3 linked regions of the Homo sapiens genome follow. The protein of the gene in region 1 purifies or fractionates together with the protein of each later gene. This does not show direct contact. Each region holds a gene or a part of one and is shown on either strand. Other genes may lie near its edges.

Region 1 (3,500 bases):
ATAATCAAGAAATACCATGCATTAAGCAAAAAGGAAAAGAATGATAATTGAACCACTCTAAAAGTGGTTCCAAAAAGAGAAGCAGAGAAGTGGCAAATTGTATATGCAGCACAAATAAGTGACAGAGAACTATGCCTAAACTTAAGAAATCATAGAAATCCATAAAGAAAAGATGATTCAATAGAAAGATTTAAACAGATACCTCACAGAAGAAGAAATCCAAATGGACAATTAACATGTGAATTAATAATCAGGGAAATGCAAACTGAGACCTCAATGATATATCACTATATACCCACCAAATGAGCTAAAATTGAAAAGCCGGACAATCAAGTGTGGTGAGATTATAGAACAAGAACTCTCATCTCCTGTTGATGAAATATATATATGAAAAATGCACACACATGCACCTTTGCACATTTACAGAAATGTTCATTGTGGCATTATTTGCAATTATCACTACAACGAAAAGATAATTACTAGAATTAACAAGTTATGGTGTGTATTTTTATACAATGAAACTCTAAATAGTATATCAGAGCTACAGATAGCACACATTAAGTGGGAGGAATAAAGCAAAAACATAAAGGAATACATATTCATTTACATAAACATTTTGAACATTTATATAAAATTTAAAAATTGGCAAGACTATTATCATTTAGAAATGCACACATTGGGCCAGGTGCGCTGGCTCACACCTGTAATCCCAGCACTTTGGAAGGCCGAGGCAGGTGTATCACTTGAGGTCAGGAGTTCGAGGCCAGCCTGGCCAACATGGTGAAACTCCATCTCTACTAAAAATACAAAAATTAGCCAGGCATGGTGGCACGCACCTGTAATCCTAGCTACTCGGGAGGCTGAGGCAGGAGAATCCATTGAGCCTGAGAGAAGGAGGTTGCAGTGAGCTAAGATTGTGCCACTGCAGTCCAGCCTGGGTGACAGAGTGAGACTCTGTCTCAAAAAAATAAATAAATAAATAAAAAAGGAAATGCATACATTGGCATTTGTTGAAATTTGGGGAGGGCTTTATACTTGATTACTTTTTGTAAATATTCAATGTTTATTGAAAAGAATATATATTCTGCTCTGATTACAGTGAACTTTTTACATGCACATAGAAATACAATAAGCATACATATATAATGCACACATATATGTACACACATATAACTTATATAGTAGATCAATGTTGTTGTTTGCTTGATCTGCTCGTCTGAGAGAAATTTATCTTAAAAAAATTCCCACCATGATTTTAGATTTGTCACTTTTTCTTACTTTTGCTTCATATTTTCTCAAGTTATGTCATTAGCTGCATACATGTCCGATAGTAATTTTCCTAGTGGATTTTTCTTCGTAATATAATACATGCACTTCTTTGTCCCTATTAATGTTATTCAACCTAAGAATACTTTTGCTAACTAACATTGCTACATCAAGGTTTTTAAATTAGAATTTGCCTGGCATGTCTTTTTCTATCTCTATTTTCTACATTTTAGTTTTTTAGTTTTAACTATTTTTAATATGTTTGATTTTAATTGTCTTCGCAGTAGTACACTGGTCAGCTGGTGAGGTATTTATGTGATTAGATTAGATGAGAGGTGAGTAACTTATGACATTATCCAGTAACCCAGCCTGGACCATCAGCAAATGATATTTCATTTGGAGGCTGTCTCCAGGAAATAATCTCTCTAAGCCCTAGAATGTCTTCATTTAAAATCAAGATTTTGTTGGTAGAGGGCTAGACACTTTATTTTTATATTCTCACTTGTCAAAACATCAAAGAAAGCACTAGTTTTTTATATTAGAAAATGTGTCATTTTCAGGTTAAAAATTTGAAGTAGATTTCATTATTTATGTTACTTTATTTTAAAATGTAATTTCTGACATGTGGGCATTTTTTTTTTCGTATTCCTATTTAAAAGCCACAAAGAAACATTTTTAAGCAAAATGTTCACATTTTGTGGGCCAATAACTTGGTAAATGAGAGTTTAGTAGAATTGGAGACAGTGATTCAACTGGAAGAGATGGAGAGAGTTGGATTAGAGTTGTGATTGGATTAGGGCTGATTTAATTAGGATTTTGATGGTACATATAAAGCCTGATCTCATATGATTTTTTTCATTTAGAGATTCTCTCCCGAAAGAAAGTCATATTTCTGGGTCTTATCATATCTTCATTTGAAATCGGGATTTCAGACTAATACAATGTAAGTTACTTTTTTCCTTTAAAATATAAAATAGATTAAGGCAATAACTTTTTACAACAGAACACAATTTTTTCCTCTTAAAACTAATTCATTCTTTCATTCGTCCATTCATTCTTTCTTTTATTCACTCATATGGAAACTGTTTATTGGGTAGCTATTGGTGCCAGGCATTGTTTTAATGCTTGACCTATATTACTGAGCAAAACAAAGATCTCTGCCCTTTTAGAACTTATATTCTACATGGGAGAAGTAGAGAAAGAGACAATAAATGTAACATAACTAAATTATATAGGGTCATGGAAGATGATAAATGCCATGTAATTATATATAATATAATTTTAAAAGATAAAAAGAAGAAAGAGGGGAAGGGAGATACGGAGTACAGAATGTTAGGGGACAGAGAGGGAGAACAGTTGCAATTTTAAGTAGAGATGCCCAAGGTTCGTTGGACTCCATTTGAACAAAGACTTGAGTAAGACAGGAAAGAATAGCCTTGGCAGAGAAAATAGCTAGTGTGAGGGCCCTAAAGCAGGAGCAGCTGTGTGCGTGTCCAAGCAACAATATGAAGGAGGTAGCCATGAAAAGCATGAGCAAGTGATGAGGTCAAAGAGGTAGGGGAAAGGGTAGACCATAGAAAACTTTGGAAACCATTGTGAACACCTTGGCTTTTACTGTGAGGGTAATGGGGGACCAATGCCCCCCGCTGTCTGACTGGATCCCCTTTTCTCTCAATCCCATCCAACTATGTTATTAATTTTTTTAATTGTTGCCAATCGGATGCTGTAATGTGATAATCCATTTTTAGTTTACTTTCATTTTCCTCATTAGAAGGTTGAGTGTCTTTCATGTTTATTGACTTGTCTATTTGAAATTGCTTTTTCTGAATGGCCTGCTTATATCTTTTGTCCATTTTTTAATTGGGTAATTTGTGATTTTTATATTATGTGTATCACTAGCAGTAGCAGTAATCCTTTATATGTTATAGGCATTACAAAATTTATTTGCGAATCTAGAATTTATTGACTTGTTTTTGGCATCTACAGCTATAAAATTAATTGTTGGATAAATGAATTTTTAAAAGTATTTCTTTTAAAGCTCTTAAGGTGTTCTGCTTTGATTGAAAGGTCTTTCCAAATTCTAGGTTCTATAAATAGTTTCTTAAATTTTCTTCTTAGGTTTTTATGGTTTCTATTTTCCCTTTTAGGTGTTGATTTTGTTTAAGCTTTAAACTGGAATTCCTATGCTACTCCTGCCATAAAAATAGAAAGTTTTGCAATCAAGGGCCAAACTA
Region 2 (3,500 bases), on another chromosome or scaffold:
TCACATCTAGTAGAATTATAAGAAAATGAAAATGTCACAGATTCCAGGGTACTTAGTGGAAGTTAGCTTATGAAGAACTGACATATACAATGACAGAAGAAGGCTAGATTGGGCATTACAAATAAAGATGTTTGGGTTGGCGTTCAGTGCCTTGGCTTTCCCTAACACTTGTGTTTATCATCAGGCACAGCAGTGACCACCACCTCAGCGGCTGTAGTGTCCCAGAGTCCTCAGCTGTATAATCAAACCTCCAATCCACCTGGCTCTCCGGTAATCCTGTTGTCCTATATACAAAACTCGTGGCTGATGGGGAAATTTTGTTTTGCTATACAAGTATTACCCTTTCCTGTTGTATGAGCCAGGATTGAGTAATACACACTTCAACCTTATTTCTTTCTGTTGTTTTAAAATATTAATTTTATGATATATATGTGCATGTATATTTTAAATATAAAATTTCAACTGTGTATTTACACTTTATGCATGCTTGACCTTTAGAAAGTTGTCGCCGGGGCCGGGTGTGGTGGCTCGCGCCTGTAATCCCAGCACTTTGGGAGGCCGAGGCGGGTGGATCACGAGGTTAGGAGATCAAGACCATCCTGGCTAACACGGTGAAACCCCGTCTCTACTAAAAATACAAAAATTAGCCGGGCGTGGTGGCACATGCCTGTAATCCCAGCTACTCGGGAGGCTGAGGCAGGAGAATTGCTTGAACCCCGGAGACGGAGGTTGCAGTGAGCCAAGATTGCGCCACTGCAGTCCAGTTTGGGCAACAGAGCAAGACTCCTCTTGAAAAAGAAAGCAAAAAAGTTGTCAACATGTGTTTTGCTGAGGGATTGCCTTAGATTATTGCTACAGTGTGTCTGTCAGGGGAGCCCTTCCTCCTGGATGATTGCAGTGATTTAGCTCTCTTAAAAGGCTTTACAGTTGAAATTATATTGAAGCTGCTGTTCTTTCCAGACTGAGGAAGCACAGCCTAGCACTAGCACAAGTACACAGGCCCCAGCCGCTTCCCCTACTGGTGTAGTTCCTGGTACCAAATATGGTAAGCCAAACCTCATGGGGCTGTTGACAGTTGGAAGGTCTTAGTTGTTGTCTTTGTTTAATGAGAGTTCTTCTCCCTTTGCGGGTGTCAGAGGGACACTTGGGGATGTGAGACAGAGAAGAAACATTAGGCCTGCTGCATCTCACTGGCTTAGAATTTGAAATAAAGCCAATTTCTTACCTGGAATGACTGTATGCTGGATTTTGTTTTTGCAGCAGTACCTGACACGTCCACTTACCAGTATGATGAATCTTCAGGATATTACTATGATCCGACAACAGGGCTCTATTATGACCCCAACTCGCAAGTAAATGTGCTGCTTTCCTCCTCAATTTCACTAGAAGTAGTTTCGCTTAGTGCATTTATGAGGCATAAAATGAAATATTTCCTGCAAAAGAATATATGACTCAGATTAGTTTTAACTTCTTCAAAGCCACCAAAATGTAATTTTTATATGGAGATTGTAAGTTTTAATTGTAGGGTTAAAAAATGTTTTGAGGTATAATATACACACAAAAAAATACACAAAACAGAAATGTGCAATTCTTTGAATGTTTATACATGTCTATACATTTGTATATTACATGTGTATATACACCACCACTTATTCCCAGCCCACCTAATCCTCATGCCCATTGCTGGTCAGTAACCTATGTCTTCAATAACCACTATTTTGATTTCTGTTGCCATAGATTATTTTGTCAAGTTACAATTTATGGAAAGACCTAGCTAGAAATTTTAAATTGTACTTTTCTCCCTATTGTTTAACCTTTTAGAGTGTACAAATCAGTGGCTTTTAATATATTCACAGTGTTGTGTAACTGTCACCACTGTCTAATCTCAGAACATTTTCATCACTCGAAGAAGAAACCCTGTACCTGTTAAACAGTCACTCCCCATTCTGTACTCTCCTCCAGTAACTACTAATCTACTCTCTGTCTCTATGGATTTGCTTTTTTTATTTTTTTTGTGGCACGATCTTGGCTCACTGCAGCCTCCACCTCCTGGGTTCAAGCAATGCTCCTGCCTCAGCCTGCTGAGTAGCTGGTAGCTGGGATTACAGGCGCCCACCACACCCAGCTAATTTTTGTAGTCGAGACAGGGTTTCACCTTGTTTGCCAGGCTGGTCTCGAACTCCTGACCTTAAGTGATCCACCCGCCTCAGCCTCCAAAGTGCCAGGATTACAGGCATGAGCCACTGTGCCCAGCCCTCTGTTCTTGACATTTCATATAAGTGGAGTCAGACAATAGATTACCTTTTGTGTCCAGCATCCTTTACTTTGCCTCCCTGTGTATTCTTGAGGGTAGAATTTAGCAGATGTATGGAGTGATGTTTTATTTTTGGTGGCATATATAACTTTTAAAAGGGAAAAACAACTTTAACACCCCATAAATAACTCTATTTATGACCGGGAGCTGTATATATAGAACAGTAATAAGTATTTTTAACAGGAACTTGGCATTGATAGGTTGTGGTTTCTGAGAGATTGAAGTGTGAAGCTGTGTGTGACGTGCCTAAGCAGGCCAAGCCTCTGCATACCTCTTCCATCCACTTCTCTCATTTGTGAAGCCTGGCCATTTATTTCCCTGTCAGTTCTTTTTTTTTTTTTTTTTTTTTCCCGTCAGTTCTCTTTGGTGGCCTTAGAAGTTGTGTCTGTAGGCTGGGCGCAGTGGCTCACGCCTGTAATCCCAGCACTTTGGGAGGCCAAGATGGGAGGATCACTAGGTCAGGAGATTGAGACCATCCTGGCTAACACAGTGAAACCCCGTCTCTACTAAAAAAAAAAAAAAAATACAAAAAAATTAGCCAAGCGTGGTGTCGAATGCCTGTAGTCCCAGCTACTCGGGAGGCTGAGGCAGGAGAATGGCGTGAACCCGGGAGGTGGAGCTGGCAGTAAGCGAATGTCGCGCCACTGCACTCCAGCCTGGGTGACGGAGCGAGACTCTGTCTAAAAAAAAAAAAAAAAAAAAAAAAAAAAAAGTTGTGTCTGTTAGCCACGCCACCTTACCCAGAAGAGACAGACACTGTCTCCTGGGTCCCTGTTGAGCAGATAGAGTGAGCGACTGGAAAATAGAGGAGAGGATATGTGACACCTCTCCTCTGTTGCAATTCCTGCTGAGCTTGGGTCCCTTCACCAACACCTCCTTCCAGCTCTGTGCTAGTGTTTACACCCTGTGTGTGGTTGCCTGGTATCCAATGGATTCTATGTGGATGGGCCCAATGATGAGCTGTTGTCATGGCAGATGTCTGAACTCCATGACACGCCCACCTGTTCTGGCTGCCTGGTTTATGTAAATAGTCTGTGGAACAGAGTGAGACAAATTGCTCTTTGGGTGCCCTCTAGGTAGGCCCAGGGATTAAATTAATGGGAACTAGACTTTTTAAATTTTTATTATCATTTTTTTTGAGATGGAGTCTTACTCTGTTGCCCAGACTGGAGTGCAGTGGCATGAT
Region 3 (3,500 bases), on another chromosome or scaffold:
CTCTCCTTGTTTTTTACCAAACTACTTTCATTGTTTGATATCCAACTAAAGAGATTATTCCTAGATGTATTTTTCTCAAACCTTTATTTACTGTAGGCTTGGTTTATCTTTTTTTGTCTCTCTTCTGTGGAGCTATGCATTGTTACTGAACATCAATCATCTCTTGAAGCATGGAGGAAAAGGGAGATAATGTAGCTTTCCTTTTGTTTGTAGAAGTTATATCGTGGTGACAAGGTTTAGCAGCACAGAGCATTTGAGTATTGGATTCTCAATCCTCTAACCCACACGTTAGAATTTCACATACGATGTTGTCCCACTTCCTACCTCTAGCAAGAAACCTCGAATTAAATGTACTCATGACTTTTCTGTCCTTCAGCTCTGATTTGCTGTTTCTTTGCTTACTTTATATTTTTTAGTAGTATGTTCCTTATTGAGATGCTACTTAAAGCTGTTTAACTCATATGTAAATATATGTATTTCATTAAGCCAGATTGTTACTTGTACAAATAAACATAATTTTTACTTATTCTGTTGTTGAATCATAGCTGAGAACAAAAGTAAAGTTACCATAGAATTTAATTATTTTTGTTTCCTTTTTATTTTAGATTTCTATGTTTGAAAAAGGGAAGGTACCTAAGATTGTCAACCTAAGGGAAATACAAGACGACATGCAGACGTTGTATGTAAACACAGCAGCTGATAGTTTTGAATTCAAAGCTCATGTTGAAGGAGATGGTGTAGTGGAAGGGATTATCCGTTATCATCCATTCTTATATGATAGAGAAACTTACCCTGATGATCCATGCTTTCCATCAAGTATGTTAATCTGTTATCTTAGTTATAAAATATGAAGTTGTAATTTAGGACAGTGATTTGTTTTTCTAAATGATTATCGGTTGGGTTATTCAGGTTAGATAAATATTAAATTTTTTCTTATGCAAGTCTTAGATTGTTAGGTATTTGTAATTTTTGTAATTCCTGATTTTTGTGTACATTCATTTCTAGATGAATAAATCTTTAATGAACTCTTCTTTTAGTTCTGTTACGAAACCAAACTTTTAGATATGTATGCGTATTAATCCTTTATATGTTCCCTTGTCTTCTCTTTATCCTTGTTGCAGTTTTACACTTTATGCAGTCATATTTACTAACTTTTTCTTTATGCTTTCTGATTTTGTCTTACTGTAGAAAGGCTTTTTACATCTCAAAATTATATAAATCTGTAGCTTTTTTGTTTTTGTTGTCATTTTATGGTCAATGCATCTGTGTTTTTCTTTTTTGTATGTAGAGCAAGGTGGGGTTTTATTTATTTATTTAAATTTTTGAGTGATGGGGTCTTGCCGTGTTGCCCAGGCTGGTCTTAAGATCCTGGCCTGAAACAATCCTCCTGCCTTGGCCTCCCAAAGTACTAGGATTACAGGTGTGAGCCACCACACCTGGCCCCCACCTTTTTTTCCCCCCCCAGTAGAGAGATAGGGATTTAACAATTATTTTCTATGTGGTATTCATATTCAGTTTCTTAGCACCAGTTATTGAATGTTATAATTTACCCAAGAGTTAGAACTTGTATAATACAAAGTTCCCATAAGTACATAGGTCTAGATTCTTTACTATAAAGTACTATTTTATTTTTTTTTAATATGAGTAATGATACTGTCTTGTAGCTTTATCTTGTAATTTGGTATCTTTGGGAAAAAACATTTTCACTATTGTTCCTTTTTGAGAATACTTTTGCTCTTCTAGATAATTTTGGAATCAGCTTTGTACATTCACTTGAAGTAATTCTAGTGAGATTATTGGGATTGCATTGAATTTATAGGTTAACAATATTAAACTTTTTCATTCAGAATACTTCCTTAGTACATTCTTGGTTTTCTAGGGCCTGCAACCAGAGATCCTGATTCGAATCCCATCTTTGCCACTTTCTGTTGGACAAACTACTCCCTGCCTTAGTTTCCTTACCTGGGAAATGGGTAGTTCACACCTCATAGGGGTGTTGTGAAGATCAAATTTAAAAACTGGGGCAACTTCTCAGAATAGTGCTCAACACTATTTATTAAGTGCTCCTGCCCAGTACATATTGTTACTCAGTGGCTCCACTGGCCTTTTTGGTTTTGTTTTTTATTTTTTGGAGACAAAAGTCTTGCGTTGCCACACACGCTGGAGTGCAGTGACACAATGTAGGCTCACTGCAGTCTCTGCCTCCCAGGTTCAAGCAATTCTCATGGATCAGCCTCCTGAGTAACTGGGACTACAGGTGCCCACCACCATGCCAGGCTAATTTTTTGTATTTTATTAGAGACAAGGTTTTGTCATGTTGCCAAGGGTAGTCTCAAACTTCTGAGCTCAGGTAATCCTCCCACCTCAGCTTCCCAAAGTGCTAGGATTACAGGCGTAAGCCCCTGTGCCTGGCCATCTCTGACCTCTTAAATTTGCTGTTTCCAATTTTTGTGTGCTAATAGACAAAAAGATATAATTTTTTTCAAATGCTGCCTTAAAAAGAAGAGCAAGTAAGTTGAGTGATCAATCAGAGGGATTCTCCTCTAAGAGCAAAGTGATTTTGTTTGATTGAAAGCAGCTTTTATATAAGGGACTTCTTGTGAGGGCTTTTAGGGAGAAGGTTTTGTTTTAGGTGGGTAAACTAATTCCAGGGTAGCTGAGGTGTTAATATGTCAGGATCACATTGTTTAATCCTAATTTATCTGGATACACGAGAGTGTGTTGCTAATAAACATAAGATTATAGACAATTGTGCAAATTAATGCTCTTGATGCATAGTAACATGTCTTACAGTTCTGTGTACATTTTTCATGCTTACTTGAATCTGAAAATAATTTCTAAAAAGTAAACTTAATTTTAGCATCATTCACTAATTTGTTCAAACTAGGTAAACTCGCTGCTATTAGATGTCATAGATTTCTCAGATGACTTTCATGTGAACATACTAGTTCTGATAAAATTGTGAAACTGTTTTAGATACGGGATTTAAGCTCCTATATTTGTAGGAAGGAGGGATTTTGTTATAGGGGATAATCTTTTTGGATGTAAGACTCTTTTAGCCTCATGAATAGGTTTTAAAGATGACAGGCCCAGCAGCTAGTACATTGGTTCATATATAAGTAATTATTGACTTCTAAATGACAGACAGCATTCGTAATGTGGAACCACTTTGTAAACCTACCTTTTTGTGGGCAAACAGTATAAAACTACCTTTAGGTTTTATAGAATGCAATTTGAAACATTTATGTGTTTGTTTCATTATTTCTCACATTTTAGCAATAAACATTTTGTTCCATTTGCCCTTTTGATCTAGAATTAAAAGATGAAGATGATGAAGATGATTGTTTCATACTTGAGAAAGCAGCTAGAGGGAAAAGGCCTATTTTTGAATGTTTTTGGAATGGACGATTAATACCATATACATCAGTTGAAGAGTAAGTTTGATTTTTGCTGAAATTATGTTTTTACAACTTAATTCTTTTACTAACTAACATTTTGTT

The links. Proteins that work in one complex are often made in the same cells at the same time.
Region 2: the proteins of KDM4D (region 1) and RBM5 purify together in Homo sapiens (affinity purification with mass spectrometry; one large-scale study listed by BioGRID and IntAct). This does not show direct contact.
Region 3: the proteins of KDM4D (region 1) and SMCHD1 purify together in Homo sapiens (affinity purification with mass spectrometry; one large-scale study listed by BioGRID and IntAct). This does not show direct contact.

Annotation. Positions count from the first base shown.
Region 1 is NC_000011.10:94,976,709-94,980,208, reverse strand, and holds part of KDM4D (lysine-specific demethylase 4D), read right to left. Parts: intron 1-3,500. UniProt on the Homo sapiens protein: Histone demethylase that specifically demethylates 'Lys-9' of histone H3, thereby playing a central role in histone code. Does not demethylate histone H3 'Lys-4', H3 'Lys-27', H3 'Lys-36' nor H4 'Lys-20'.
Region 2 is NC_000003.12:50,109,419-50,112,918, forward strand, and holds part of RBM5 (RNA-binding protein 5), read left to right. Parts: intron 1-184; coding exon 185-270; intron 271-960; coding exon 961-1,045; intron 1,046-1,260; coding exon 1,261-1,352; intron 1,353-3,500. UniProt on the Homo sapiens protein: Component of the spliceosome A complex. Binds to ssRNA containing the consensus sequence 5'-AGGUAA-3'. Regulates alternative splicing of a number of mRNAs.
Region 3 is NC_000018.10:2,697,226-2,700,725, forward strand, and holds part of SMCHD1 (structural maintenance of chromosomes flexible hinge domain-containing protein 1), read left to right. Parts: intron 1-605; coding exon 606-816; intron 817-3,313; coding exon 3,314-3,434; intron 3,435-3,500. UniProt on the Homo sapiens protein: Non-canonical member of the structural maintenance of chromosomes (SMC) protein family that plays a key role in epigenetic silencing by regulating chromatin architecture.